Homo sapiens: one gene and its partners. The protein of the gene in region 6 interacts with the protein of the main gene of each other region in a pairwise test. Each region holds a gene or a part of one and is shown on either strand. Other genes may lie near its edges.

Region 1 (3,653 bases), on a different chromosome or scaffold from region 6:
GTGAAGCAGGTGAATCGCTTGAACCCAGGTGGCGGAGGCTGCAGTAAGCCAAGGTCACATCACTGCACTCCAGCCTGGGTGACAGAGCGAGACTCTGACTCAAAAAAAAATTTGTCACTTTGAATTGCATTTCTGCTAAGATTCTATTCCAATATACTTGAAGAACATTTATTACAAAAGCAAAATGGCAAGTAGGACAAGCACACAACCAAAATGTGTGAAGTTCAAAGTTTACTACAGTAAATTAGCATAAAGACCTTAAAGTTTTCCTGTTTCTACAATAATGCTATCCAAGTAAAATTTAAAAGATCTGCTACTTTCCCAAAAATAAACTACACCGTAACTATAGTGCTGAACTTTAACCACTAAACAGGTATAACTTTAGTTGTCAAAGTGATTAGAAAGCAACCACACAAATCAGCATATGCTTACATACTATGTAAAAGGACTAAACGAAGTTACAATATTCCAACTCATGTTCCCTACAGTACAATTTTATACAATTCCTTAAAACTTAGTGATTATTTTGAGCCCAATAATCCCATGAAATATGGAAATTAATCCCTCTTGAAGGAATAATTTACTCGTGTTTTTTATTCCGTACCTGTTATGTTATTTTATTTATTTATTTATTTGAGACACAGTCTTGCTCTGTCACCCAGGCTGCAATGCAGTGGCGCAATCTCACCTCACTGCAACCTCCACCTCCTGGGTTCAAGTGATTCTCCTGCCACAGCCTCTCGAGTAGCTGGGACTATAGGCATGTGCCACCATACCTAGCCAATTTTTATTTTTAGTAGAGATGGGGTTTCACCATGTTGGCCAGGCTGGTCTCGAACTCCTAACCTCGAATGATCCACCCACCTCGGCCTAGAGTGATCTGCCCACCTCAGCCTCCCAAAGTGGTGGGATTACAGGCATGAGCCACCACGCCCGGCCTTATTTTATCCTGAATTATTAAAGGCCCCTGTTCCAACTGACTAACGTAAAAATGTTATTCCGGTTCACTAGGTCCTTAGACCTTTTATGTGCTCTGCTGGTTTATTGTTTTGAGGAAATGATGGAAAGATCATCCTTTTCTATTTCTAAATAGTTCTCACCAGGGATAATTTTGCCACCACCTCTTTCCAGGGGGACATTTTAGACGGTCATAACTGAGAAAGGGGGTGCTACTGGCATCTAGCAGGAAGAGGCCAAGGATGCTGCTAAAAGTCCTACAACGCACAGGGCAGCCCCCAAGACCAAGAATTATCCAGCCCAAAATGTCAGGAGGACAGAGATGAGAAATCCTGGTATAGTGGTTAAGAGGGAAAATTATGGGAGACTAGACTACCTTAGTTCAAATCCAACTCCACTACTTACTATGTGAATGACCCCAAGGAAGTTGACTTCTGAGCCTCAGTTTCCTCATTTCAAACTAAGGGATAGAGTACCTAACTCACAGGAATACAGTGAGAATTATGTAGGAATACGTGCTTAGTTAAAACTTAAAAAAAAAAAAAAAAAGACTGTAGCAAGTTAAAGTACGAAAGTAACATGCAATCATCCCTTTTAGTTTGTACTCCTTTTCAAATATTAACAGATATACTGACATCCTCCACCTTCTATTTAGTATCTCCCTCTATCAAGTACCAAATGTAACTGCTCTAATCACATTATCTAATATAATCTCCTATACTTACATTCTACTTTAATAAATTAACCATATATCGTCTTCTGAAAGAAATAAAAAGAAGTTATTTTACACTGTTTAGTATATCCAGGTGTTTGAAATATAGAGCATTAAAACTAACTCTTTTTGTAGTCTTCCTTCATTTACACTATCATCAAACCTACAAAGTATATTTTCTTTGGTCCCAGAACAAGCATGGGTCACTTGGATAATCACATAATCCAGAGCTATTACATAATTTTGTCTGATCCCATTTTAGAACTGAAGAAATTGAGGTTCAGAGCTTGCCAACTTGTCCAACTGGACAATTAACTGCAGAAACTAGAACTTGATCAATTCCCTGATTATGAAGTAACAGAAATATGTAGAAGCATCCTCTTCCTTTAAATTCCAAACAGGGCAATCAACAGAAAATTAACCTTGAATAGTATTGACAGTGATTATTGCTCTCACATTCAAGAACAATTACCCCTCTTCTAGGAAATCAGTAACTAACTTTTTAGGAGCTAACTTCAATTCTTACCCAACTAAGTTTCCTTCAGTCTTAAGCAGATACCTATTTACAGATTCTCTAAAAAGGTCTCCCTAATTAGTATAACTCATTACACACCTACTTGTTTTCTTATTGCACTACTGTGTTATAATTTTAATACTCATTTCATTTTCAAAATCCATCCATCGAACATGAAATTTTTGGGGTGGCAATGAGCACTACTGGTGAAGAAACAGTCTATCATGAATAGAGATTTAGTATTTCCTATCTCTCAGAGAAAAAACTCTCCACCCTTTAACAAAATGTATTAAGATATTTGGACAGCTAATATTTAAGACATTTTCAGAAGAACATTCTGTAAAATACAAAGAAAATATGTGAGATAGGCCAGGCATGGTGGCTCACAGCTGTAATCCCAGCACTTTGGGAGGCAGAGGTGGGCGGATCACCTGAGGTCAGGAGTTTGAGACCAACCTGGCCAACATGACGAAACCCCACCCCTACTAAAAAAAAAAACACAAAAATTACCAGGCATGGTGGCGCCTGTAACCCAGCTACTCAGAAGACTGAGGCAGGAGAATCTCTTGAACCCGGGAGGTGGAGGTTCCAGTGAGCCGAAAGAGTGCCACTGCACTCCAGCCTGAGTGACAAAGTGAGACTCTGTCACCCAATACAAAACAAAAAAAAAGCTAGACAGATTTTTCATCTTGCCAATTTACCAAAATTCCAGTTATTTACAATTCTGATTATTTTCACAAATATGGTTCATAGTAAGAGTTCAATAAACACTTAGATCACTGGTGTTTCCCTATGACTCTCAAACGTTCAAGTCTTCTTTAAAGAGATGTTATGCATTTAACAAGTCTGATCAACACCTGTTATTTTCCAATTAGTGTATAAATATTAAAATTTATACAATTTTTAAGTATACAAATTTCACTCACATTTGATTTTTTGCTGCTTGCCTCTGAGCTTTTCTTTCTTTCCTTTTCTGATCTGGTGGCTTGGCAAAAACAATTTCAATATTTTCTCCCTCCAAGTCTTTGCCATTCATTTCTTCCATAGCCTTAAAAAATTAGATAAGTCAATATAAAAATAGGACTTTCATACAATTATGATTCATTTAAAGTTGGAATATCATTTATCATTAATGTGGGAAGGACAAGAGAAAGCCCCATGCAGGCAGTCAAATAATTTTATTTAAAGATGCAGATATTCAATTATTTTTCATTTTTACTTAGAAAACTGCCAACATCACTAAAACCAAAAGGTTTTAGTTTGAATGGATTCCATGGACTTCCAAAGTCTCCTCCAATTTGTAAAACTATTTTGAGATTCTAAAATGACTAAATTTGTTAGTCTGATTTAGATGCCTGTAATTCCACCATATTTACCTTGACAGCACCATCTCGCTCATCAAAATGAATGAACGCATAATCTTTTAACTTCTTCACTCGTTCCAGTTTCCCAAACTGACTAAATGCCTTT
Region 2 (4,448 bases), on a different chromosome or scaffold from region 6:
TTGGACAGGCTGGTCTTGAACTCCTGACCTCATGTGATCTGTCTGCCTCAGCCTCCCAAAGTGCTGGGATTATAGGCGTGAGCCACGCGCCTGGTCTTAGATGGAATTTTGAATGAAGATGATGCTTGGCTTGAACTTCATTCTTTAGGCTGTGAGGACTCATTTAATTCATGACATTTAAAGCTGTACATATTGTCATGACAAAAAGAGAAAATGACAAAAAATAAAAAAGCTATGTAATAGGTTTCTCTTATATTTTCCTTCTTGAAAGATTACACTCATAGAAGATTGGAAGGGGAAGTCAGAGAGATAGCAGGGAGGTAGAGCATTTTAGCAATAATTTGAGTAAAAAACAATAAAAACTTGAACTAAGAATAGTGTTGCAGGAAGGGTAATTTAGTTTCTTTGACTTGACTGCCAGAGGTGAATGGTAAAGGAGAAGTAAGAGTTTAGGATTGACTGGCCATTTACAAAAATAATTATAGAGTGAAAACCATAATGAAATACCACTTTTTACCCACTAGGATTCCTATAATCAAAAAGATAATAACAAATGTCAATGAGGAAGTAGAGAAATTAGAACTCCCATGCACTACTGGCAAGAAGGTAAATGGTGCGGGTGTTTGGAGAAGAGCCTGGCAGTCCTCAAAAGGTTAAGCATAGTTACCATAGGACCCTGCACTTCCATCCTAGGAACCTAACCAAGAAAACTGAAACACATGTCCAGAAAAACTCGAACACGAGTGTTCACAGCAGCATTTATTATTCATAACAGCCAAAAAGTAGAAACAGCCCAAATGTCTATCAGCTGATAAATAGAAAAACAAAATGTGGACCCATATAACGGAATATTATTTGGCAATAAAAAGAAATGAATTACATGATATTGTTTTCTAAAGAAAAGAAAGAAATGAAGTAGTGATACTTGCTACAACATAGATGAACCTTGGAAACATTATATTAAGTGAACAAAGTCAGTCGTAAAAGGTGACATAGTGTACGATTCCCTTTATATGAAATGTCAAGAATAGACAAATCCATAGAGACCGAAAGTAGGTTAGTGGTTCCCTACTGCTGGAGGGGAGGTGGGGGGGATTGAGGAATGGTTGCTAACTGGTACTGCGTTTCATTGTAGGGTGAAAAAATACTCTAAAATTGATTGTGGTATTGATTGTACAACTCTGTAGACATACTAGACAGAAACCATTAAATCGTGCTTTTCAAATAGGTGAATTGTATAGTAGGTGAGTTATAGAGATGTTATAAAATTATTATAGGGGAATAGTTTTATGTGACTGACCTTACATATATTCAGCTTTTCTTGAGGTATACTTGCTACACCCAGTTAGATAATTAGTTAAACCAGTCCAGGGTTCAGCAATGAGCTTAAGGGCCTTGGAAGTTACTGTATCAGGATGATAGATAACATGATAATGAATGGGTTAGTTTTCCTACGGAAAATATAGTTAATGTTGGAGATTAGGATAACATCAAAAGTCAAATTAAGGAAAATGAAAACTAGAAAGTGACTGAGAGAATGTTCAAGAACCAGGGGAAAACAAGAGTACCACAGATGCCAGGGGAGGAAAATGTATCCAGCAAAGTGTTGTCACAGTATTAGTTGTCTTGGCCCAGAGGGGTGACTTCAGGTAGCTGAAAGTACCCAGGAGAATAAATATGCTATCCAGACCACTTGTGGACACAGTTGTAGCATCCTGCTAGGGAGAAGCCAGTTTCTAGGAGAATAAAGGAATACCTGAGTAGTAAGTAAATAGAGAAGATGAGGGTAAATCAGTTTTTCAGAATTTTAGGTGCATGGCCTCAAGAAAAAGGAGGTAGCTAGAAGTATATGCATTGTTTAGGCAGCTTAGTTTTGTTTGTTTGGTTTTGGTTTGGGTTTTTTTTTTTTTTTTTTTGAGACAGAGTCTCACTCTGTCGCCCAGGCTGGAGTGCAGTGGCTCACTGCAACCTCCGCCTCCCAGGTTCAAGCAATTCACCTGCCTCAGCCTCCCGAGTAGCTGGGATTACAGGTGCGTGCCACCAAGCCCGGCTAATTCTTGTATTTTTATTAGAGATGGGTTCACCATGTTGGCCAGGCTGGTCTCGACCTCAGGTGATCCGCCCGCCTCAGCCTCCCAAAGTGCTGGGATTACAGGCCAGCCATACATTACAGTGGGCCGAGCCACTGTGCCCGGCCCAGGTAGCTTAGTTTCATCTCTAATGAACACTGAAATGAAAGAAAAAAGTAACAAGCAAAAATTATATGGGGAAAACTAAGAAACACCGTGGCAAGAGGAAAGTAAACATTAAGTACATAACTGGCTAAAGGATAAGAACAGACATTTCACAAAAGAGGAAGGACATACAGGTTATATCCATGGAAAGTTGTCACCCCAAAAGCATTTAGAAAAGTGAATTAAACCAGATGTTATATATGAAATTTAAACAGCATCAATAAAGGAAAATGTTCATCCTGAGGAGGCAATGAAATGGCCATCTCAGATTGCTGATGGCAGTATAAATTGATACAATCCTTTAAAATATGGTTTGATAATAGGTATTAAGCCTAAAAATCTTCTCATTCTAAAATAAATGGTATGTTTAAAATGACATGAGAAGGTTAAAAATGTAAAGATCCTGGATTAGTGATAACTTGATTTTTTTTAAAAAGGAAAATGGATCTTATATAGTGGTGGTAGAATTCTGTACACATATTTAATAGCATGTTTTTAAAGAAAAATGACTTGGAAAAAATCCTTATTACACAGTAAGTACAGAAAACATTGTAAAATAGTAATACTCTATGAAATTTTTATGCTGAATTTTGTAGTGTTACAAGTTTTGATGTTATTCCTTTTTTTTTTTTTTTTTTGAGATGGAGTTTCGCCCGTTGCCCAGGCTAGACTGCAGTGGTGTGATGTTGGCTCATGGCAACCTCTGCCTCCCGGCTTCAAGCAATTCTCCTGCCCCAGCCTCCCAAGTAGCTGGGATTACAGGCATGTGCCACAACAGCCAGCTAATTTTGTATTTTTAGTAGAGATGGGATTTCTCCATGTTGGCCAGGCTGGCCTCAAACTCCTGACCGCAGGTGATCTGCCCTCCTCGGCCTCCCAAACTGTTGGGATTACAGGCGTGAGCCACCACGCCCGGCCCTCGGTGTTATTCTGGCCCTGATTCTATTTTAGTAAATAGATTTTACTAGCAGATAGGGATGGGTTGGGAAGAGGAACCTTAATTATAGAAAACCTCATACATAAAACATTGAAGGCACGGGCCTTGCCTGTCATATATTCACTGCTGTACTTCTCTGTCAGATGTGTGCCTGGCATGCAGTAGGCATTGAAAAAGTATTTGTCGGCCAGCGCAGGGGCTGTTTCCTGTAATCCCAGTTTGGGACCAGCCTGGGCAATATAGTAAGACTATATCTCTACCAAAAAAAAAAAAAAAAAAAGCCAGGAATGGTGCCATGTGCCTATGGTCCCAACTACTTGGGAGGCTGAGGTGGGAGGATCACTAGAGCCCAGGAGTTTGAGACCAGCCTGGGCAACATAGTGAGACCCCCATCTCTACCAAAAAAAAAAAAAAAGTCAGGTTAGCCAGGCATCATGCCATGTGCCCATGGTCCCAGCTACTTGGAGGGCTGAGGCAGGAGGATCGTTTGAGCCTGGGAGGTCAAGGCTGCATAGAGCTGTGATCATACCACTACACTCCAGCCTGGGTGACAAAGTGAGGCCCTGTCTCAAAAAACCAAAACAGCAACAACAGACAACACCAAAAAATAAGAATTTGTTGAATTAAGAGAGCAATGATATTGATTGGTAGATACAAACTTTGATTCTGATTACCCAGAGTTCATAACAGCAGAAATACTGATGTTATGAAACGAAAAATAAGATTTAGCATTATATTTATTCACAAATTTGTTAGACTATATAGGATAAGTTAGGAATGAAATATACATAAACATTGTCACTACTCAAATTCCTTTCTAAAATTTCTTCCTCAAAGTATGATTTTTAAAAAAATTTACGGTGGGTAAATGTTACCATAAAAGATTAGTTTCACAATAGGGATTATTTATATGATGTATAAATGAATTAGTGGATTAGGACCTTTTTTTAATGAATAAGTAATATTTTACTTTTTTGCTAAACTGCTTAAATAGTTATGTCAATACATGTCTCCTAAAAATAAGGATGTTTTCTTATTAAATGTGTTTATAGAAAGGAGGCCTCTTGAGTGTCGTATATGTTGATGAGTTTTCATTGGCAGTATGGCATGTTTGTTTTGTGAATTTGAATATACTCCTTTCTCAGAAAATACAATTTTGGCTTTATATGATTGTAAAAATATATTTCTTAGGAATAGTCTCTGGGCCTTTGACTATTACCAATTTAAGTCGGTAAGTTAGTGGGGAAACTAGGAGGCCATTACATAGAAACTCAGTT
Region 3 (4,448 bases), on a different chromosome or scaffold from region 6:
CCGCCCTGTGGAGTGTACTTTCATTTTCAGTAACTCTCTGCTTTTGTTGCTTCATTCTTTACTTGCTTTGTTTGTGTGTTTTGTCCACTTCTTTGTTCAAAACGCCAAGAACCTGGACACCCTCCACCAGTAACAGTTATCACTTAAAATTTTTAAAAAGGATGAAACAAAAATGTATGTACACTATAATTACAATTAATATAAAAACATGCATATCAACAAGATTGAAAGGGAATGTATAACTTCAATAGTTGTTTCATAAGAGTAATACAATTTGTCAGACTTTTTGGTCCTTCTAAACTTTTAGTAATATCATATTACCTATATGATATAACAAATTCTTTAAAATATTTTTTAATTTTAATATCTAAAAAATTTTGTTATATTTTTATTACATTTTCCCAGTGAACAAGTATTTAACATTTTGTGGCTTAAGTATTACAATTAAGAAGACTATGCAACTTACAGGGAAAAAATCAGTTTCTCTGTCAATCCCATAAGTGCTGTTGCAATCACTGTTCCAAAGATGACAATTCCAGAATAAACATGTATGGGCATGAGAAATGCTCGGAGAGAAAGCGGAGCCCATGGAAGCAGAAAGACTGAAAAACCTGAAAGAAGCTAAACACCAAAAAGTGCAAAGGTTATCATTTAATTTTAAGTTCTAAACTAATTTTAAATTATTTAAAAAGCAATATGTGTAATATGACAAAACCTTTCATATAGAACCAAAGGGTAGAAAATGAAGTTTCCTCGCTCCAGTTCCACTACCTAATGTAACCCCTTTTATCACCTTCTCATGGATCATTCCAGAAAATTTATTATCCCTATACATATTGTTCTGCATCTTGCTTTTTTCCCTTAACAGAATATCTTGGAAATCTTTTTCATACCTATACATTTACCTAATTTATTCCTTTTAATGGCTAATATCCTAAGGCTATAACAATTTATTTATACAGTTCTCTATGGATGTTTCTGTTTGGTTTTTGCTATCCTTAATCCGACTATAGTGAACATTCTGGTACTTACTTGTTTGTTTTTACCAATCTCCTAAGGTTGCTAAGTAGGAAGGGAAGGAAAAGATTTTTTAAATCACTAAAACCGAGTACATTAGGACACAGAATTTAGTCAGTTCAACCTAAAAAGCTATGTGGAATGAAGTTGATTTTTGTTTTATGAGAAAGAAATGAATTCTGCAGAAAAGGTGTCTTCATTTCCTTGATAATGAAATCGCTAGTGGGATACCTCTTTGCAGAGAAGACAGCAAGGTTCCTATATAAACTGAAGTCTGTTGCGCTTTCACGGTTTTGTCACCCCACACGTTTGCCCATCAAGTATCCTCTCTTCAACAAGATAAAGATGACTTTGTGGTTACTGAATTACTGAGTTTAAAGGAACATTTTTTTTCAGATGCCTATTTAGGATCTACCATCCTAGCAAAACAATTATGAAAAGAGAGGAGAGTGGGGAGAAAGCACTAACATCACTGTTCAGCTTTCTTGATTGAGATCCAAGGGCTAATGGGGAGACAGAAGAAGGGAGGCAGGGGGAGGGGTCCAACGCCCTAATTCACACTGAGAATCAGCTCATGTGTAATACCAAGTAGTAATAAATGGAAACTGATAACAAAACAATTTGTATGATTTGTCACTTTAACAGACTGCAGAGGAAAAATCATATAATCATCAAAACAGATGGTGAAAAACATTGGTAGGATTCAACAGTCATGTATGAGATGTTTTAACAAACTAGGAATGGAAGATGATTATTTTAATCTGATTATATTAGGACAGAACATGCTATAGGAACTAACAGGCTCCATTTTCAAGAGCTTAACATATAAAAGTATATTTCTTGCTCACACACAGTCTGCTTATGGTCTATAGGCATTTCAGAGTAGCTCTCTTCCAAGACATGACTCAGATCTAGAAGGGATTTGTCTTATATCCCTTATCACCTATTCCTATTCAGCATTTTTCTGAAAGTCTCAGCTACTGAGTTAAGCAAGAAAAAAAAATGATGATAGAAAAAGAAACAAAACTTATTAATCACATAAGATTATAAAACACAATCCAAAAGAATCTTGAGATTAATTACTAACATAAGTTTATCAAGTTTGCTAGGTATAAATTTATACTTGAGATCAGTTGCACTTTTTGTAAAGAGGCAACAAGTGAATTAATTTTTAATGATACCATTTTTAATAGCAAGGAGCTAGCAATAAGTTGGAGACAACAACTCTACAAAGAAAATATAAAGCTTTGCAATATTTTGGAGAAGGCTAAAAAAACAGGCTCAGGATAATGAGTTGGAAGACTTGTATTATACAGATGTCGGTTCTCAAATTCATCTATAGATTAAATAAAATCCTAATAGATTTTTGGTGGAATTTGATGCATTGATTCTAAAATTTACATAGATCAAAGGGCCAAGAATAGCCAAGATTAACTGTTGTTTTCTGAAGTATATCCTAATACAATAAATTCTGTAATTTATATTTAAAAAGTAATAACAAATGCATTTGATAGGTTGGTTTGCATATTTTATTATTTAGTTAATAACCAAAATGCCTGAATATATTAGAAATGGTTCAGAGGGTTCCCTCTTGGTGGTTCAGAATATTCCTAAATCTTCTTCAGTGAACTTCAGTGATTCTATTAGTATCAAAGGGCAAGCTTCCTGATGTCCATGTTGTGCTTTCTATATGAAAATGGGGGCTGAGTGTGGTGCCTCACGCCTGTAATCCCAGCACTTTGGGAGGCCAAGGTGGGAAGATCACTTGAGTCCAGGAGTTCAAGACAAGCCCGGGCAACATGGCGAAACCCCATCTCTACAAAAAATTAGCTGGGCATGGTGGTGCACGTCTGTGGTCCCAGCTACTGTGGATGCTGAGGCAGGAGGATTGCTTGAGTCCTGGAGATGGAGGTTGCAGTGAGCTGAGATTGTGCCATTGCACTCCAGCCTGGGTGACAGAGTGAGACCCTGTCTAAGAAAGAAAAAAGAAAAGAAAGGAAAAGAAAATGGGGCTCAGGGATATAGCACAAATATATCTCCATAAATCATCATATCTTTTCTGTGGCTTACCCATAGAAACATATATTTCTCATTCCTGCTCTCCTATTTTCATTCCTAAGATTCTTTCTGTTTTCTCTCATTTCCTCCATAATTTGTCATGTGTGTCTCTTACAATCCTGTAGGGCTCAACAGTCTAAGCAGGTAGGAGGTCAGAAATTTGCTTACAGGATCCCTGAGCAACTTAACTACCCTAAATCTGACTTTCACCATTAAACATTTTTTGCAACAAAAGAAAATTACATTTAAAAGGAAAAGAAAAACATTACAGAATGCTTAACTTTGATTAAAAGTGTTCTGAATGCTGCAATAATGCATATTTATAATTTATAATAACTTATAATTTATAAATAATCATTATTTCCTTTTAACTATCTTAATCTTACTACCTTACAAGTGAAGGTGATAATTTATAACCTAGTGGACCGAAAATTATAAGACCTTTTGTCTCTCTAAGTCAGTACTGGAAGTGCTGTTCACAGAAGGCATGCATTTAAAGGGATGCCTGCTGTAATCCCAGCACTTTGGGAGGCCGAGGCAGGAGGATCACTTGAGATCAGGATTTTAAGACCAGCCTGGCCAACATGTCAAAACCCCATCTCTACTAAAAATACAAAAACTAGCCAGGCATGGTGGCACATGCCTGTAGTCCCAGCTACTCTGGAGGCTGAAGCAAGAGAATTGCTTGAACCCGGATGGCGGAGGTTGCAGTGAGCTGACATTGTGCACTTCAGCCTGGGTGACAGAGCAAAGCTCTGTCTCAAGAACAAAAACAACAACAACAAAAAAATAAAAAATAAAAAGATGCCTGGGCCACATTCTGACCTGCTAAATCCAATTTCTGGATTAGGGCCCAGGAATCTGTATTTTTAACAAACTGCCCAGACGATTCTTACGTATGTTGAAGTTTGAAAATGACTGCTGTTGATTCACTCAAATTATTCTAGAGATATGGATAAACAGTCTGGAAAACCCTCAAAAGAGAAGGTAGTGGAATATTCCATTATATATAGTCTACAAACACACTAAATGCCAACTATATGCAAACAAAGTGCCCCAGTGTTTAGGAATCATCACCTACAGGAAGCTGTTCTTCAACACAGTGGAAGTTCTTAAGAGCTAAGGAAAAATAAACTTTCATAAAAAGTTATTACTTAGAGATGAAAGTGAAAATACAGTATGACCCAATTATGTTTAAAAATTAAATATCTATATCTACATTTGCATAGGCATAATAAAAGCCTAAAGGGAATAAGCCAAAAGCTAATGATATCTCTAGATTATGGCAGTATCAGTGGGTTTTTTCATTTTTTGTTTTTTTATTTAATTTGTAGCAGCAGCAGAGGTTCTACTCCTTGTGGAACAGGAATACC
Region 4 (4,448 bases), on a different chromosome or scaffold from region 6:
CCCAGTCATTTCATCAGGGCTTCCCTGGTGACAGCATCTGTTTGCCTCTACTAGGGCACCAAGTCCAGACTCAGGGAACTACTGGATTTTCTTAAAAATCATTAACCTTGCTCCTCCCTCTCCGTGGGCCGTATCTGCCCCCCAAAAGCAGAGCTTAGGTGAGATACGAAGAGCAGGAGAAGCATGTGGAAAGAATACCCAAGTAGCTGGGATTACAGGCACCTGTCACCAAGCTCAGCTCATTTTGTATTTTTAGTAGAGACAGAATTTCACCATGTTGGCCAGGCTGGTCTTGAACTCCCAGCCTCAGGTGATCCGCCTGCCTTGGCCTCCCAAAGTACTAGGATTACAAGCGTGAGCCACCACACCCGTCTGGTTAAGTTAAATATTAAAAGCTGAAGCCGGGCACGGTGGCTCACGCCTGTAATCCCAGCACTTTAGGAGGCCGAGGCAGGTGGATCACAAGGTCAGGAGTTGGAGACCAGACTGGCCAATATGGTGAAACCCCATCTGTACCAAAAATACAAAAATTAGCCGGGTGTGGTGGTGCGTGCCTGTGGTCCCAGCTGCTCGGGAGGCTGGGGCAGAGGAGTCACTGGAACCTGGGAGGCAGAGGTTGTGGTGAGCCGAGATTGTGCCATTGCACTCCAGCCTGGGCGACAGAGCAAGACTCCGTCTCAAAAAAGAAAAAAAAATATTAAAAGCTGATAGAGCCAGTGCCCTTATACAAAGGCTGGAATGTAACAGAAGCCCACTGAGAGTTTTGCCCAGGCCTTTCCTGGGCCTTGAAGCATGACAAGATAACGAAGGAATCGATTAGGACCTGTTTAGGATTAAACAAGTTTTATGGGGGTCTGAAGGAACTCCCAGGCCTCCACAAACAAGTTTATTGAGGGTCTGAAGGAACTCCGCAAACCTTAATGATTTAGCAGGAGAGACAAGATAAGGGTAATCACCCCAGCACCCGGACCCATCTAGATTAGGTAAATTTACTGAGGCACCAGAGGAAGGTCTTAAAACTCAGACCTTAGTTATAGATTTGAAGAAGTTAATCACTTATGTTTTTAGATGAATAATGCACACCTATACGTAGACGTATAGCTTAGAAGGTATATAAGCTCTGGAAAACTTTGTAATTTTGAGTTGGTCTGGAGATATTTTCTAGGCCTTCTCCCTGTACGCAGAAATAAAAATTCGCTTCTTTCCCAGTAAATCTGCATCTCGTTATTGGGCCGCAAGAAGCAGCAGCCGACCCTCCGTTTGTTCCGGGAACAGAATCATCTCATCTAATATTTTGAGACTTCTCTCTCAAGACTGATATCCACTGCCTCTGTGCTTCTAGTTTTCAAGTATCCAACATGTGTGGTCCACTGAGTATTTCTCTATCATCACCCTCTACACCATGTCTACACCTTTAGGCTCCAATAAATGTCCTTGGCAAACTTTCAGGATGAGACTCCTCAGAACCTCCCAGCTGTTGTGGATTCCTCTACTTCCACACCCCAATTGCTCTGGGTATTAATTGGATATATGCTGTTATCTCCATTTGTCATTGATTAACCAAAAGAGTAGCAAAGAGGCCAGTGAAAGAGGACCCTGAATACGAGGTCATCTCAGGTCACCATACTGAAGATAAATAATTTTTGTAAATCACTTATTATGTCTATTTATACATTTGATGAAACAGTCATTCACTCTGCTGATAATAAGAGCAATCATTGCAAACGTACAGTGCATGGTGAGATTTGTTACACTGCACATAAGGTAGTCAGAGCAGGTATTTTTGATAATATAACATGTAAGGAGAGAATTTAATAAAATCGTACTAACATCAGAGAAACATTTCATGCTGAGAGAAGAGCAAATGTGAAAGCCCTGAGGCATAAGCTGTTTGGTGATTTTAATACTGAGGATGTGTTTTGGCGTGGGAAAGAAAAGCCAGGAGAGATGATGGGTCACACAAAGATCTTGGTAGAAAAGACCTCAGTCTGTTTTCTATTCATTGAAAGTAAAGAAAAATGATAACCAATGCACAGATAAGAACAGAATTTGTCATATGACATGAACTGGCAGTAAAGTATTTAAGGTGATTATGAAAAGCCCTTATTACCAGGTAACCAAACACCTTTTCTTATTTCTCCCCTTTTTTTGTCCTTAATTATTTTCATCTTGCCCATTTTCTAATTGTGCACAATCAATATCCTTTCTATTTCTACCTTTCTTACTTGGTCCCATTTTAACCTTCCCAATCATGCAGGGATCTGTGAACAAGAGGAACCTCAGCAGCCAGGACAGGCAGGAGCAGTGGAATAGCTACTATGGCTTCTGGAATCCTGGTTAATGTAAAGGAGGAGGTGACCTGCCCCATCTGCCTGGAACTCCTGACACAACCCCTGAGCCTGGACTGCGGCCACAGCTTCTGCCAAGCATGCCTCACTGCAAACCACAAGAAGTCCATGCTAGACAAAGGAGAGAGTAGCTGCCCTGTGTGCCGGATCAGTTACCAGCCTGAGAACATACGGCCTAATCGGCATGTAGCCAACATAGTGGAGAAGCTCAGGGAGGTCAAGTTGAGCCCAGAGGGGCAGAAAGTTGATCATTGTGCACGCCATGGAGAGAAACTTCTACTCTTCTGTCAGGAGGACGGGAAGGTCATTTGCTGGCTTTGTGAGCGGTCTCAGGAGCACCGTGGTCACCACACGTTCCTCACAGAGGAGGTTGCCCGGGAGTACCAAGTAAGAGACTGGGATGGAAGGAAGAGAGGGCAGAAAATGGGACCAGATGGAAAATTTTCACTTTGCCTTTGACATTAACTGCCTTGTCATGATAGACCTGAGACCCGGGATTATTTTTTTCATGCTATGCTTAACTTCTGAGGCTTTAAGGATGGTTTTTTGCATTTCACCCAATTACAGGAGAATAATCCTAGAGTATATATTCCTGGCCGGGAGTAAATATTTTGTACCTTGGGTTAGATGGGTAGAGATTTGGTGTCCAAGAAAAGCTCTGATTACCCCTTTCAGCAGGAGAGTAACAGGAGTGGGTTGAGATGTAAGTTTTTTCCTTGCTGCAGGATTAGTTTTTTCTTCTAGGACAAAAAGAATCAGTCTACTCATGGTGAGGAGATGGGGAGGTCTATTACCTGAGATGTAGGGAGCACATTCACCAATGTAAGTTTTCTTCCAAGTCATGGATTCTCATTGCCATTCTCACAGTTTCTGCAAATTTGTTTCTTCTGAGATCAACCTGATTTATTTCATGTTTATACTCTATCTAGGTGCTGGAAAACCTCATAGCTTGACTATGGTGTGATTCCTTTCTCACAGGTGAAGCTCCAGGCAGCTCTGGAGATGCTGAGGCAGAAGCAGCAGGAAGCTGAAGAGTTAGAAGCTGACATCAGAGAAGAGAAAGCTTCCTGGAAGGCAAGAGGATGTGGTTCCCGAAGGAGTTAGCTAGAAATCTGGGCAGGACCAGGGGAAGGAGCTTTCTTCCTCTTTATTCCCTGACATTTGATAAGTCCAGAAGTCATTTGATTAGTCCTCTTCATCCTTTCCCTGATGGGGTGTGGTGGCTGAGGAGTGAATATGTCACAGTGAACACAGTAGGGAGCTCTTTACATGAAGGATCTCTCTGGTGAGGATGGCTAGTGAATCCTGCATTCTATTTTTGTGCTACTTTTTGAGTCCGTGACTCTACTTGGGGAAGACATTTGGCAATGGCTCATGATTCTGTCCTCAGTGTTCAACTTTTGGCAGGGAGTTTGAGCTTGGGCTGAGAAGTAATACAGGCAGGCATGAGTGTCCTGCATAGCTGTGTGAAAGGTAAGCTACATCCAGGTAACCCATTTTGATGCAGGATGAACCTCAATATACCCATTCAAGGTCATTGTTTTAAAATGTCATGAAGGAAAAGAAATAGGAAAAGGCAGCTTTCCTAAGACCTACTCTCCTGCTACTATGTCCCCTCCTTGTGAGAACTCCCCAAAAGAAACAGCTCCTTTTCTGGCTAACAGCCTCTGCCTGGTAGACTGAGTGCCCCTTTCTCTTCTCTTATCTCTGAAGACTCAAATACAGTATGACAAAACCAACGTCTTGGCAGATTTTGAGCAACTGAGAGACATCCTGGACTGGGAGGAGAGCAATGAGCTGCAAAACCTGGAGAAGGAGGAGGAAGACATTCTGAAAAGCCTTACGAACTCTGAAACTGAGATGGTGCAGCAGACCCAGTCCCTGAGAGAGCTCATCTCAGATCTGGAGCATCGGCTGCAGGGGTCAGTGATGGAGCTGCTTCAGGTAAAAAGTGGAAAGAAGCCTGAGCACTGAGATTAAAGAAAAGTGAAGGCTATTTCCTTCTCTGCGTTGCTGTGCTTTTTCTAATATTAACAATGTTCTCTGCAGGACCGCTTTTCTGAATCAATTGCTGAAGTTATAAGAATAATTGAATGTAGA
Region 5 (5,043 bases), on a different chromosome or scaffold from region 6:
AGGCCTGGGGAGAGAGGAAGCGTGTGAGAGGCCTCAGCTGGGTACTACACCCTGGATGCCCTAACAAAGGTCTACTTACAGGTCTTCTTCAGTGCTTCTCTGGGGCCTCCTGACCTCCTGGCTGGCCTGTTCTCTGCGAACCTGAAGGAGAAATTGAGAGGGCATCTCAGGGTGCAGCCTCCTGGCAAAGGCCAAGGCTCCAGGACTGACAAAAGGGCTGGTAGGGCCAGGAACTGTGGGGTTCCTGCTGTTCTGATGCCAGAGGGGCCTCTGGTATACATACAGGGGAAACACCACCTCAGCTTGACTGCTACTACTGCCTGGGCCTCTTATGCTCTGTGATTGAAGATACTGCCTCAGACCAAGACCTCACAGCCTGGTTCCTGGAGCTCCTAGAAGATAAATCGAGGGGAACTCAGGCTGCAGACTGCAAGCACAGCCCCAGCACCCCAGTGCTGTCAGGAGGGTGAGCCTGACTCTGTGAGCTCCCCACTATTTTGTGTGGATGGTCCTTTCTGTGCTCATTCAGGGCCCTCATCTTTCTCCTGGCAGGGCCTGGATCTGGCCCTTTTGCTGGCCTGAGAAACTTTCAGATCAAGAGTTTATATCCCTGATATGGAAGACAAGGATATGAAGGGACCCACATCTGGCCCCACATGCCCAAGGCCTCCTGGGAAAAAAGCAATAGCTACACAAAATGCAATGGGGCCCACGTGTCCTGTCCTAGGGTGAGAAAAAAGCAATAGCTACACAAAATACATTGGGGCCCATGTGTCCTGGGCTGACCTGAGGCCACTTCCTTAATCCAAGGACCTATCTCCAGGAGACACTGGAAGAGCAAATGAGGGGATTCCATCCACCCACCTTTCCCTGCACTTCCCATGGCTGACAGAAGGTGCAGGGTGGGGTTCGGTCCTGTGTGTTTGGTGAGTGGTGTCCTCTGAGTCCCTGACTCCTGGCAGGGCCTTGGACCCCCGCTCTGCTGACCTGAATGCAGTGCCCTCAGACCAAGGCCTTCTTCTCCCTGAGACCAATGAGTCTGGTATAACACAGGGGCCTCAGCTGATAGTCCTGCTCATGCTCTCAGGGGTGACAAAAGAGGCCGGGCAGATTTCTGTTGGGCCCCCATCTGTTTTTTGCCTGCTAGGAGAACCATCGAGGGTACCCTCAATCTTCCCTCAGTGTTGTCACCTAGACTCTTGGTAGATTCTTGGACCACTGAGTCTGTTGCCCACATGGGGGTCCCTGTTTTGTCCTGAGTTGCCCTCTGAGAACAAGGTCCTCACTTCCCTGAGATCTCAAGAGAGAAATGAGGAGCCACCACATCTGATGACCACTGGGTGGGGTGTCCAGGGGTGACACTAGGATCTGTCCCTACTTGTTCTTGAGTGGTGGGTTCTAAGGTCTTCAGGGGGTTATTCATCTTTCCCCTGATGGAGCCCGCCCTTCCTCAACCCACAACACCCTGATATGAGCAGACATCTCCCCTTACCACCAAGACCTTATCTTCCTGCGTTTCCCCAACTTCCTGCCCACAGTACAGATGAGATCTCCACTTAGGGCCACCCTTGATCGGGTTCCCCCAGAGATAATAACCAAAGTTAGCCAGACTTTGTGGGGTCCCTTCTTTCCAGGCCAGGAGTACCCCCATTCATCACAAAGTGAGCACATCTTGGGTCCTGCAGATCCTGTGACCCCGTCCCTCTGTTGAACAGGTGTGGCTCCCTCTGCTGAGCTGAGGACGCCCTTCAGACCCAGGTTGCTACCTCCCTGAGACCCAGGAGGCAGAAGTAAGGAGGCACTACATGGACAACCCTGCATGGGATTCCCACGGCTGACAGAAGTAGTAGGTTTCATGGGGTCTTTCTCTGTCTGGGTGTCATCCAGGTATTCATATTTACTCCACGACAAGGCATGGCCCTTTCCTTCCTGCTGAACCGTGGATGTGTCTTGCATGCCAAGGCCACCATCTCCTTGAGGCCCCCTACCAGAAAGTGGGGGGGCCACATCCCTTCCCCACTGTCCTGCCTTGGGTGCCCAGACCTGAGAGTGGGAGCAGGTTTCCTAGGCCATGATGGGAGGTCTGCTGAGTCCTCCTTAAGGGCTCTGGGGCACCTCTCTCCAGTGATCTGAGACTCCACTCCTCAGACCACAGCTGTCTCCTTTCTGACACCCTGAAAATGCAGCAAGGATGCGCCACATGCAGCCACAGATCCTGGGACTTCCCAAGGCTGAGATCTCCACTGATCTGGAGTCCAAGGACCCCTGAGTCCTCCCTCTTCTTCTTCTCCTTGACTCCTGGCAGGGCTGTTCACCACCCCCCTGCTGACTTGAGTTTCAGTCCCTCGGATTCCTGAGGCCAAATGTGGAGGCCCCTCAGTCTCAGACAGGTAGGGTGGGCCCCCTGTCCTGGGGTCCTGGGTCCCCTCGGGCCTCCTCATCTCCCAGCATAGCCTGGGCCCTCCCTCTGCTCCTCTTGAGTCCGTGCTCATGAAGCCCCTTTGCTGCATCAGCCCCGGATGCGGACGTCAGAATCAGCGAGCCCGGCCGCCATGCCCGGCCGCCATGCCCGGCCGCCATGCCCGGCCGCCATGCCCGGCCGCCATGCCCGGCCGCCATGCCTAGGGCTTCCCAGGGCTGACAGTAGGGGCAGAGATGTGCTCTGTGGAGCCTCAGCCCTCCCTCAGGGTCCTGCCCTTGATGCCTGGCAGAACCTGGGCCCTGCCCTCTGCTAACCAGCCCTGCTCTGGTCACACCAAGCTCTCACTCCAGATTCCCCTGGGGCTTAAGCGCAGGGCTGGCGAGGGGTGGCCCAGCCAGACAAGTCTGCCCCCTGGTGGTCCAGGGCTGGCAGCAGGGGCGGCGCTAGATTATTTTGGGTCCTATATGAGGGGTGGGGGCCTCCTCAGTCCTCCCTCAGGGTCTCACCTTGCCTCCTCACAGACCCTGAGCCCGCTTCCCTCAGCCGATCTCAAGCCGACCCCTCAGAACCAGGCCCTCGCTTCTCTCTGATCCCCGCGGCCACGTCAGTGGCGTCACATCCGTCCACCCAGGGCTCACCTGGGTGGACAACAGGGGCGGAACCGGATTCTAGTGGGGCGGGGGATGAGGGAGGAGCGGTTCAGTCATCCCTCAAGGTTCTCACTTTGAGATCTGGCAGAGCCTGGAGCTCCGTACTCTGCTGATGGTGTCTGCTTCCCTCAGACCAAGGTTCTGATTCCGAGTCCCCTGAGGTGGCAGTGGGGGGAAGGGTGTGGTGGGGGGACAAGGCTGCTGGGGTCTTTCAGGGCTGACATGAGGGTCTGAGCTGAATTATGTGGCCCCTCTATGTGGTGTGGGTGGACCCTCAGTCCTCACTCAGGAGGGTCCTCTTCTTGACTCTTGGCTCTTTTAGGAGATACTCTGTTTCTGTCACCTCTGAGCATTTGCACAGCTGCACCCCTTGCAGAGAATGGCTGCGGGTCCCAGGCCAGATTCTCCCTGTGGGTTTGCAGCACCTAAGATTGTAGTGACCTCTGGGAGAAGAGGCACACCTTCCCACGGGGGCTCTTCCCCAGCTAGAAGAGGATTTTGCAAAACTTTTGTACTAAATGATTTATTTTTACACTGAAGAAACTGAGTAGCTGCAATAAATTTGTGGAAGTCCTGAGTTTTGAAGTTACCTAACAATTCCTATTCCACTTTAGTGATTTTCATAATTTAATTCGCATTCGTATAGTAAGAAACGAATTTTAAATCTATGCCAATTGTATATGTGCATTATATTTATGTTTATATGCATAAACACATATGTATGTATATGTTTATATTATATATGTGTAATTATATGAATGTATGTGTATATATCTTTACATATATTTATACATATATGTATGTCGACTATACGTACTTATTTTATCAAACAATATCTACTCATACAATGTGTGATTCACTCATACTATTCTATTTCTAGTTCATTATATATATTTGATTAAAATAATAGTATTTTGGAAGGTAGTCCTAACCTACTCTTTGTTTCTAGTTGTTATTAGCAGAATTCTGGAGCCATGGTGTCTCAATCAATCCAATTTTCCTGGTGTCCTGATATTACCCCTGGGCTACTGGCTTCGTGTTTTGAGGTGCAGACTCGGATCCTACATTGATGTGGGGTGGTCCTTTAAAACTTTTCCTGCAACTCACCCTGTCGTCTGCAGTGGCTGCAGACCTCCTCAACCTCCCTGCCTCTCCAACTGCCCAGAACACAAGTACCAGTTCAACACAGTTTTTTCCCCAGGGTTTTCTATGTTTTGTTGTTTAGACTTTGTTGCTGATATTGTTGTTTTATTTTTCTTTTTCCCTTCTATATTTTTACACAGTTGATTTTGGGAGTAGAGCACAGCAGCCTGGGCTTGATTGTCACTTTGGCAGCTACAGGTAGGCATTAACTGTTTATTTAATTTAAGTAAGATTTACACCTTTGCTGTATTCTATTCCTCATCAGTGAACATCATATACTACTCCATTTATTTGGGAATTTTTTCTCTGAATCTGTCAGCAAACTTGTACAGTTGCTTCTGTAAATGTCTTGCATATTTTGGTTAGGCTTCTTCTTCTTTATATTTTGGATTTAAATGCTGTTGGGGATGGTATATTTTTCATTTTATGTTCTAAGTTGCTCATCTGTGACAAGTCTCTTGTATTCGCTGCAGTGGTCTTTGTATGCTGTCTTCTGAAGTCTCTTATTCATTTGAATGTTCCATGTGTCTCTTCCTTTGAATTTTCTTGATGGTCATATTGTGAAAAATATGATCTATTTCTTTTCAATCTTCATACCTCTTTTTCATCTTGATATCCATAGCTCTCTTTTTCATTTCAGCATTCACTGCAGCTGTGAACGGTAGCAGTGAAAGCATACATCAATGACTTGCTCCTGACGAGAATGGGAATGCTTCTAACATTTCACATTCAAGTATGTTTCCTGTCAGTTTTAGAAAATTAAAGTGCCTTTTAATCTTCATTTGCTAAAAATGTTAATTTGAAAATATGATAAAATTCATTTCAGAG
Region 6 (4,448 bases):
TCCTATGTTGTTTTCAATGTATGATCTTCTGGAAATGGGTTTTTCAAAAATACGTTATGCAGAAATACATATTACATTGTAGCAGAGTTGCCTGCATATTTAAGATTTTATTATAACCTATTGAAATTAAACATTTATTAGTATTCCAAATATTTTATTAACTGAACGAAGTCAGCATAAGATTCCATTTTAAACTTTTGGCCAGATAGGTGGAAAAGCAGTCAAAATTAAGAATCAGAGTCAAAACACAAAGCTGTTTTTTTTTTTTTTTGAGACAGAGTCTCACTCTTTCACCTGGGCTGGAGTGCAGTGGCACAATCTCTGCTTACTGCAAGATCTGCCTCCTGGGTTCAAGTGATTGTCCTGCCTCAGCTTCCCGAGTAGTTGGGATTACAGGCATGCGCTACCACACCTAGCTAATTTTTGTATTTTTTTTTTTAGTAGAGACGGGGTTTCACCATGTCAGCCAGGCTGGTCTCAAACTCCTGACATCAAGTGGTCTACCTGCCTTGGCCTCCCAAAGTGCTGGGATTACAGGCATGTACCACCACACCGGGCCAAAATGAAGTTCTGAAATTTAACTAGTATCTTCTAAATGGTTATGTTTTAAAAAGCTCTTTTTGGTTTTAACTATTTAAAGGTATTTAATTTCTGCTTTAAAACTTCTGATTTTGTACTAGAATCTACCACAAAAGCAAGTATCATTGCTATACTCTATTTTATGTATTATAACTAAGCCTTTTACCAACTCCTGAAATGTTTCTGTTACTGGTTCAGCTCATTTTTTAAATTTTCAGTGCACTGTGTGAAACTTCCGCATGCGTAGGAATCTATGTGAGGTACTTAGAGGGAACCTATTTGACTTAGCTTCAATTTATGCTTAATCGTTGTTTCTGGAAACTTAAGCCATTTTTTCACTTGTCCTGAAATACCTCTAGGTTGGACAGCATTGTAAATGTTAATATCTTTGGTCTTAAGCATTTTGCTAACCAAGTGTTTATTCAGCTTTTGTTTTTTTCCCCTTTCCATTTATTCTAATGTTCTATTATTGCTTTAACCTTTCGTATTTTAAACTTATTTTTAATGATGAAATCTTTTGAGTGAATGCATGCTCAGAGATATACTTGTATACTTTAAACATAAACTAAAGCCAAGGCATCATATTGCTGATCTGTCTGTAGACTATTCCAAGCCTGGATTGTTCTATGCCTTAAGCGCCTGTGTCTATATTTAGACTCTAGGCAAGAAAAAGAGAGAGCAAATGCTCATGCTAAAGCTGTCAGATGTAAGTCTTTGGTTCTTCCAGGTACTTTATATCTGTATTTTCCTAGCCAGAAATCCTGATTTTGAAATTATGAATGTACATTCAGAGTAAAAATTAGAGTTAAAATGCTACAAACAGGGCAAAGACACCTTCAATAAATATTAAGTGAATTAATCAGTCCTTTTCTGGAACTTAAAATCTTGTAGAATACTCAAATAATAATTTTATTTTATTTTAAAATGCTTTTGTGCCAAGATATTTTATCAAATTTCTAAAATATAATTTTTTAGTTATATAATAGTCTAACATAAAATTTAAAAAATTATTTATTAAGATATGTGCTTGAATGAATGCTAACTTTAGGAGATGATAAATGGCTGCTGATGGGGGAAAAAAACAATCTTCTAATTAGTTTTGCTTTTTAGAAATCATTGGTAATTTTAACCTTTCTCCTAGATGCCAGGATAGAAGAATTTGTTTATGAGAAACTGGATAGAAAAGCTCCAAGTCGTATAAACAACCCAGAACTTTTGGGACAATATATGATTGATGCAGGGACTGAGTTTGGCCCAGGAACAGCTTATGGTAAGTGAAATGCAAAAAGTTCTAATAAGGGATATCTTTATGTTTAGATTTATTAGAGATGTCATTAACATATTAGTAGGCCGGGTGCAGTGGCTCACACCTGTAATCCCAGCACTTTGGGTGGTTGAGGTGGGCGGATCATGAGGTCAGGAGATCGAGACTATCCTGGCTAACATGGTGAAACCCCGTCTCTACTAAAAATAACAAAAAATTAGCTGGGTGTGGTGGCAGACACCTGTAGTCCCAGCTACTTGGGAGGCTGAGGCAGGAGAATGGCGTGAACCTTGGACGTGGAGCTTGCAGTGAGCCAAGATCACACCACTGCACTCCAGCCTGGGCCACAGAACGAGACTCTGTCTCAAAAAAAAAAAAAAAAAAAAAACATAGTAGTAGAATTGGTTTTAACTTCAAATTTATGTTAAAAATTTTTGATGAAGTGAGAAATATAGGCAAATATATACAGTTAAATGTAATATTTAATATATTCAAGCATATATTTAGTTATTCAGAGAATTCACATCTTTTTTAGTTCTAAAAAGTTTAATGAATTCTTCACTTGTTCTCCCAGTGATCTTACAATACCTATGTTATAATACTTGTGATATTGCAATTATTGTTTGCATATGTCTCTTCATTTTTAAAAAAGCTTTCTTAGGGCTTATTTTATGTTAAAGGTACTTGGCACGTAGTTCTTGAACAAATCAGTGCTTTTGTTATAATTTTGCAGTAATGTCAGTAACCAAAAAATATTAACAATTGTTATCTCTGGATATTTGGATTACATTTCATTTCTGTTTTTCTCTTATGTATTTCAAATTTTCTATAGCCGTGGTTTAGTTACACTCGCTTTATTAGTTGCTGTACAGACTTTAAATGTATAGCCCTGAAGCTCAAAGTTACATACACATCTTTATTGTCACTCTAATTTTCTCATAACATGAGACTGTTACAGATTTCAGTAGCTTCTTTTCCTGTTGTTTATGTCTAATAATAATTCTCTTTATACATCTGCAAGATACTGGTCTTTGGATATGAAATGGTAGGTAGATTAAATTAATTTCTACACATAGTTCTGATTTACAGAATGGTTTATAAATTCTAGGATTAAATGAATTTTAAGCTTTAGTAGTTATCTTTATGTCAGAAAGAAATAACCTAAATATTGTTGAATGCCACTAATCCATTGACAGGCTTTTTTAGGTACACAACTTTGAAACTTCTACATTGTGTTCTTCAAAATCTAATTTTTAAGTTTGAAAATGCTTAGAACTTCAAAATAAAATTATTTCTGAATTTTACTGTTAATTTTTAGAAAAATGTTATACATTAAACAGATGTTTTATTGCCTACTTGTGCCAAGCTCAGTTAGATGCTGGGATCATAAAGGTATGTGAAAGGAACCCAGCAGCCCCTTCCTTCACCAGGCTGAAGAAGGTTTTAGCAGAGCATGAACATTAGTAAAGGCTTCTAGATTTTCTTCCCTTTTAAATCTGCTTAATCTGTTTGCACCTCTAGTAATTCTAGTGAATGTACCCTGGTTATTAGAATTGGGCTTTGTGAACCTATTACCTTATTAGTAATTAATACTAAAAATTGAGTATCACAGGCATGGGCTAAGCATTATATAGTATATATATTTACATATTAATTCTCATTTATATCCTGCTTTTAAGATAAATTATATTACCTTCATTTTAAAGACAAGGAAACAGGTTTGGAGAAGTTAAATAATTAATCCACAGTCACAGCTAGTATAGTAATTCAAATGAAGATCTGTCTGTATCCAGTGACGGAGCTCTTAACTACTATCTGTATTACCTTCCTTATCAGTCAGATCAAAGCTTATCCTAACATGAAGGGATTAAGATCCTTAGAGCTAAAGCTTATTAGAAGTAAAACTAGGAGTGGAACCCTGATCTTGGGGCTTCCTTTCTTTCTACTCTACTTTGTACTGTACTTGCCCTATTTAAGTATCAGAGTATATGTATTGCAAAAGCATGGATTTTTTAACTTAAGATATCACTATGAACTATTACTTATAGATACTTCAGATGATAACTGCAAGGATGTAGAAACAGGACAAATTGTGACTTGATCTCTTGGAAGCATTATACTTTTATAAGTATAACCACAGTCACCCCTCGATATCCATGGGGGATTGGATCCAGGCCCGCCACCCTGAGGATACCAAAATCCATGGATACTCAGGTGTCATATAAAATGGCATAGTGTTTGCATATAACCTATGCACATCCTCCCTCGTACTTTAAATCATCTGAATGTAAATGCTGTGTAAATAGTTGTTATGCTGTATTTTTTAGGAAATAATGACAAGGGAGAAAAGTCTGTACATGTTCAGTACAGAGGCAACCATCTTTTTTTTTTTTTTTTTTTTTTAATAGTGACAGGCCCTGCTGTGTTGCCCAGGCTGGCCTTAAACTCCTGGGCTCAAACGATCCTCCTCCCTCAGCTTTGGAGTAGCTGGGACTGCAGACATATGCCACCACTGTGCCTGGCTCCTCAGCCATCCTTTTTTTTTTTTTTCTGAATGTTTTTGATCGTGGTTGGTTGAATCCATGGATGCAGAACCCATAGATAC
Region 7 (4,448 bases), on a different chromosome or scaffold from region 6:
ACATGATCTCGGCTCACTGCAACCTCTGCCTCCCAGGTTCAAATGATCCTCCTGCCTCAGCCTCCCGAGTAGCTGGGATTACAGGCATGCACCACCATGCCCGGCTAATTTTGTACTTTTAGTAGAGATGGGGTTTCACCTTGTTGGCCAGGCTTGTCTCGAACTTCTGACCTCAGGCGATCCGCCCGCCTCGGCCTCCCAAAGTGCTGGGATTACAGGCGTGAGCCACCATGCCTGGCCTAAATATGTATATTTTTGCTTTGTCTTAGACAAGTGTGCAAAGCTGTATATAAATGGCTAGTCACTGCAGAGTTGTTTGTAAAGCTGAAAAAATAAACTGCTAGATGAACATTCTGTGTAGATGCTAAGAATTGCTTGTAGGACAGACTATTTGGATCAACACTCTGAACCTGCAGTCTATTAAGGCAGTCACTTCCAACTAGCATCTGGTGATCTAAGGAAAACTTTCAGTCTCTGCCACTTTCTAAGAAGCTTCTATCTTCGAATTAGAGAAGACATTCAACTATACCATCTCTCACAAGCCTTCTTGGTCTATAGACATGCAATTAAAATGGTTTCCAAGAATGTTAGTGCTCCAGTAATATGATGTGTTTCTAAAAGTCTTATTGAAGGGACGGTCTTCTAACCATTGCATTGGTTGAAACAATGGGTTGGAGGAGGACAAGTCACACATAATAAATACATCCCACCAATCTCTTAAAAAAACAGTATCCAAGGCCAGGCGCAGTGGCTCACGCCTGCAATCCCAGCACTTTGGGAGGCCGAGGCAGGCAGATCATGAGGTCAGGAGATCGAGACCATCCTGGCTAACACAATGAAACCCTGTCTCTACTAAAAATACAAAAATTAGCTGGGTGTGGTGGCAGGCGCCTGTAGTCCCAGCTACTCGGGAGGCTGAGGCAGGAGAATGGTGCAAACCCGGGAGGCAGAGCTTGCAGTGAGCCGAGATCGTGCCACTGCACTCCAGCCTGGGTGACAGAGCAAGACTCCGTCTCAAAAAAAAAAAAAAAAAAAAAACAACAAAACAACAACAACAAAAAAATAGTATCCAAGTATTAGCCATTAAAAATTTTTAAAAAAGATACTGCTCACTGCATCCATGAAGGAAAAGCAAGAAACAGAATGCTAAAGTCACATTAAAAGAACAACAGCCGGGCATGGTGGCTCACATTTGTAATCCCAGCACTTTGGGAGACCGAGGTGGGTGGATCGCTTGAGCTCAGGAGTTCAAGACCAGCCTGGGCAACATAGCAAAACTCCATCTCTACTAAAAATACAAAAAATTAGCCAGGCATGGTGGTGCATGCCTGTAGTCCCAGCTACTTGGGAGGCTGGCGTGAAGAAATCACCTGAGCCCGGGAGGTCAAGGCTGCAGTGAGCCAAGATCGCACCACTGCACTCCAGCCCAGGTGAACAGAGTGAGACTCTGTCTCAAAAAAAAAACAAAAAACAAAAACAACAAAAAAAACTTGTTGAAGTTGAAGAAATCTCCCAGAAAATAGACCAAAAAGATAGAAGTGGAAAATTGAAAAGATTATTAGTGTTCTACCAAATCTAAGAAAGAAAAAAAAAAAATTATTAGGCCAAGCAGTCAGTGGCTCACACCTGTAATCCCAACATTTTGGGAGGCCAAGGCAGGAGGATTGCTTGAGACCAGCCTGGGCAACATAGCAAGACCTCATCTCTATTTAAAAAAAATTAAAAATAAGTCTAAAACTGTAAAATAAATAAAGAAAGAAAAATTAGACAACTGGTCCAGGAGATCCATATAACTGGAACTACAGAAAAAAAGATGGGAAAATTAAAGAGCAGGATATCATTAACTAAATAAATATAAAGAAAATTTCCCCAAACTGAAAGGGCCCCTTGAGTTTCCAGCACAGTGGATGAAAATAGGCCCACAGTAAGGCACATCACTGGGAAAAATCAGAATACTGAGGACAAAAGAAAATCCTATAAGCATTAACTGAAAGGAAAAAAAAAAACCCACACATGTAAAGGTTCAGAAATTAGAATTACTTTAAACTTTTAACAGCAACACTGGAAGTCAGAAGACAATGGAGCAATACCTAAACACAGCTATTAATAAATTATCAAACAAATGTGAGGATAAAATGAAGAAATTTTCAGACATGCAAAGTCTCAAAAACTATAGTTCCCATTCTCATTTTCTACGAAAGCTATTGGAGGATGTGTCCACCAAAACAAGAGAATACATCAAGACATAGGATAGGCCAGGTGCAGTGGCTTACACCTGTAATCCCAACACTTTGGGAGGCCAAGGCGGGTGGAATGCTTGAGCCCAGGAGTTCGAGACCAGCCTGGGCAACATAGCAAGACCTCCCTATTATACAAAAATACAAAAATTAGCGGGCATGTGGCACACGCCTGTAATCCCAGCTACTTGGGAGGCTGAGGCAGGAGGATCCCTTGAGCCCAGGAGGCAGAGTTTGTAGTGAGTGAGATTGTACCACTGCACTCTAGCCTGGGCAACAGAGCAAGACTGTCTCAAAAAACAAACAAACAAACAAAAGACATAACATACAAGAAACAACCCAAAACAAAAAGGGAATATCCAGAAGGTATTGAAGAGAGATCCCAGGGTGAGAGCCGTATACCAGGCCTAGAAAGCAAACAGGACAGATGACTCTGGGACCAAGTTTGCCCAGACGGTTAAACTGATGAACTATTTGATACATACGACAATGAAAGGTGATTTACACAACTAGTAGTTGTCTAAAGAAATAATACTGGGCCAGGTGCGGTGGCTCACACCTGTAATCCCAGAACTTTGGGAGGCCGAGGCGGGCAGATCATGAGGTCAGGAGATCGAGATCATCCTGGCTAACAGAGCAAAACCCTGTCTCTACCAAAAAAATACAAAAAAGTTAGCCGGGCTTGGTGGCGGGCGCCTGTTGTCCCAGCTACTTGAGAGGCCGAGGCAGGAGAGTGGCGTGACCCTGGGAGGCGGAGCTTGCAGTGAGCTGAGATCGCACCACTGCACTCCAGCCTGGGTGACAGAGCAAGACTCTGTCTCAAAAAAAAAAAAAAAAAAAAAAAGAAAGAATCCTGGCTGGGCGCGGTGGCTCACGCCTGTAATCCCAGCACTTTGGGAGGCCAAGGCGGGTGGATCGCCTGAGGTCAGGAGTTCGAGACCAGCCTGGCCAACATGGTGAAACCCCATCTCTACTAAAAATACAAAAATTAGCCAGGCATGGTGGCAGGTGCCTGTAATCCCAGCTACTTCGGAGGCTGAGGAAAGAGAATCGCTTGAACCCAGGAGGCGGAGGTTGCAGTGAGCCGAGATTGTGCCATTGCACTCCAACCTAGGCAACATGAGCAAAACTCTTGTCTAAAAAAAAAAAAAAAGAAGAAGAAAAGAAATAATCCCGGCCGCCCGTGGTGGCTCACGCCTGTAATCCTGTAATCCCAGCACTTTGGGAGGCCGAGGCGGGTGGATCAATAGGTCAAGAGTTCTAGACCAGCCTGGCCAAGATGGTGAAACCCCATCTCTACTAAAAATACAAAAATTAGCGGGGTGCTGTGGCAGGCAGCTGTAGTCTATAATCCCAGCTACTTGGGAGGCTGAGGCAGGAAAATCACTTGAATCCGGGAGGTGGAAGTTGCAGTGAGCCAAGATTGCGCCACTGCACTCTAGCCTGGGCGACAGAGCGAGACTCTGTCTCGAAAAAAAAAAAAAAAAAATCCCAAACTTCCTAGTAGAAATAATGGCCAAAACCTTCCCAAACATGATTAAAGACATAAATTCACAGGCTCAAGAAGTTCAGTGAACTCCAAGTAATCAATCTCAGTGAACTCCATATAATGAATGATCTAACACAATTATGAAAAAAGGGAAGTAACTACACTCAGACGATTGAGGGAGAGGGAAGAAAGCATTCAGGTATGTGAGATTTGGGGAAGTATAGGGAAAACAAAACAGGTCAATAAATGACAGCTAAATTTTCCCATTCCATAATGGGAAGCCAATAGTTCACACCTAAAACTGAAAGATCAAGAAATGTCCAATTAACTTGTTTAGGGAAAAAGAGATTACTACCTTAAGAATCAGTTAAGAGTGCAAACTGGATGTCTCAAGGGATGGAAAAATGGGGGTAGTGAGAGAGGTGGAGGATTACTCTAATCTGTAACAAGCCTTGCACAAGTACTTGGCCCTTTGAATTATAAGGATGTATAACTCCAAAAAATTAAAACGAAGAGACTGTGTACTTTAAGATGGCAGTGTAATAAATATCTATTGGAAAACACTTGATATTGTTACTAGAAAAGCTTTAAGTTCTAAATAAACTAATATTTACCTTTAAATATAAGAAAGGTCATAAAAATATGAAAGTGGGCCTAAAGAATATTAGGCAATTAGCCTAAAAGCCATTTGTTACTTTATTTCCCCTTTCACTTTCCTTCTA

What was found.
Region 1: the proteins of SH3GLB1 (region 6) and SYNCRIP interact in binary tests that used the Homo sapiens proteins (3 or more experiments, as listed by UniProt).
Region 2: the proteins of SH3GLB1 (region 6) and UBE2G1 interact in binary tests that used the Homo sapiens proteins (3 or more experiments, as listed by UniProt).
Region 3: the proteins of SH3GLB1 (region 6) and CYBRD1 interact in binary tests that used the Homo sapiens proteins (3 or more experiments, as listed by UniProt).
Region 4: the proteins of SH3GLB1 (region 6) and TRIM5 interact in binary tests that used the Homo sapiens proteins (3 or more experiments, as listed by UniProt).
Region 5: the proteins of SH3GLB1 (region 6) and MAGEA8 interact in binary tests that used the Homo sapiens proteins (3 or more experiments, as listed by UniProt).
Region 7: the proteins of SH3GLB1 (region 6) and FUNDC1 interact in binary tests that used the Homo sapiens proteins (3 or more experiments, as listed by UniProt).

The regions. Positions count from the first base shown.
Region 1 is NC_000006.12:85,615,709-85,619,361, forward strand, and holds part of SYNCRIP (heterogeneous nuclear ribonucleoprotein Q), read right to left. Parts: coding exon 3,560-3,653; intron 3,232-3,559; coding exon 3,110-3,231; intron 1-3,109. UniProt on the Homo sapiens protein: Heterogenous nuclear ribonucleoprotein (hnRNP) implicated in mRNA processing mechanisms. Component of the CRD-mediated complex that promotes MYC mRNA stability.
Region 2 is NC_000017.11:4,289,783-4,294,230, reverse strand, and holds part of UBE2G1 (ubiquitin-conjugating enzyme E2 G1), read left to right. Parts: intron 1-4,448. UniProt on the Homo sapiens protein: Accepts ubiquitin from the E1 complex and catalyzes its covalent attachment to other proteins. In vitro catalyzes 'Lys-48'-, as well as 'Lys-63'-linked polyubiquitination. May be involved in degradation of muscle-specific proteins.
Region 3 is NC_000002.12:171,549,519-171,553,966, reverse strand, and holds part of CYBRD1 (plasma membrane ascorbate-dependent reductase CYBRD1), read right to left. Parts: intron 622-4,448; coding exon 467-621; intron 1-466. UniProt on the Homo sapiens protein: Plasma membrane reductase that uses cytoplasmic ascorbate as an electron donor to reduce extracellular Fe(3+) into Fe(2+).
Region 4 is NC_000011.10:5,678,048-5,682,495, reverse strand, and holds part of TRIM5 (tripartite motif-containing protein 5), read left to right. Parts: intron 1-2,257; 5' UTR 2,258-2,318; coding exon 2,319-2,735; intron 2,736-3,326; coding exon 3,327-3,422; intron 3,423-4,061; coding exon 4,062-4,292; intron 4,293-4,448.
Region 5 is NC_000023.11:149,879,171-149,884,213, reverse strand, and holds the start of MAGEA8 (melanoma-associated antigen 8), read right to left. Parts: upstream 3,032-5,043; 5' UTR 2,929-3,031; intron 1,847-2,928; exon of another isoform or gene 1,716-1,846; intron 1,144-1,715; exon of another isoform or gene 865-1,143; intron 393-864; exon of another isoform or gene 142-392; 5' UTR 80-141; intron 5-79; 5' UTR 1-4. UniProt on the Homo sapiens protein: Not known, though may play a role in embryonal development and tumor transformation or aspects of tumor progression.
Region 6 is NC_000001.11:86,717,787-86,722,234, forward strand, and holds part of SH3GLB1 (endophilin-B1), read left to right. Parts: intron 1-1,720; coding exon 1,721-1,849; intron 1,850-4,448. UniProt on the Homo sapiens protein: May be required for normal outer mitochondrial membrane dynamics. Required for coatomer-mediated retrograde transport in certain cells. May recruit other proteins to membranes with high curvature. May promote membrane fusion.
Region 7 is NC_000023.11:44,532,612-44,537,059, forward strand, and holds part of FUNDC1 (FUN14 domain-containing protein 1), read right to left. Parts: intron 1-4,448. UniProt on the Homo sapiens protein: Integral mitochondrial outer-membrane protein that mediates the formation of mitochondria-associated endoplasmic reticulum membranes (MAMs).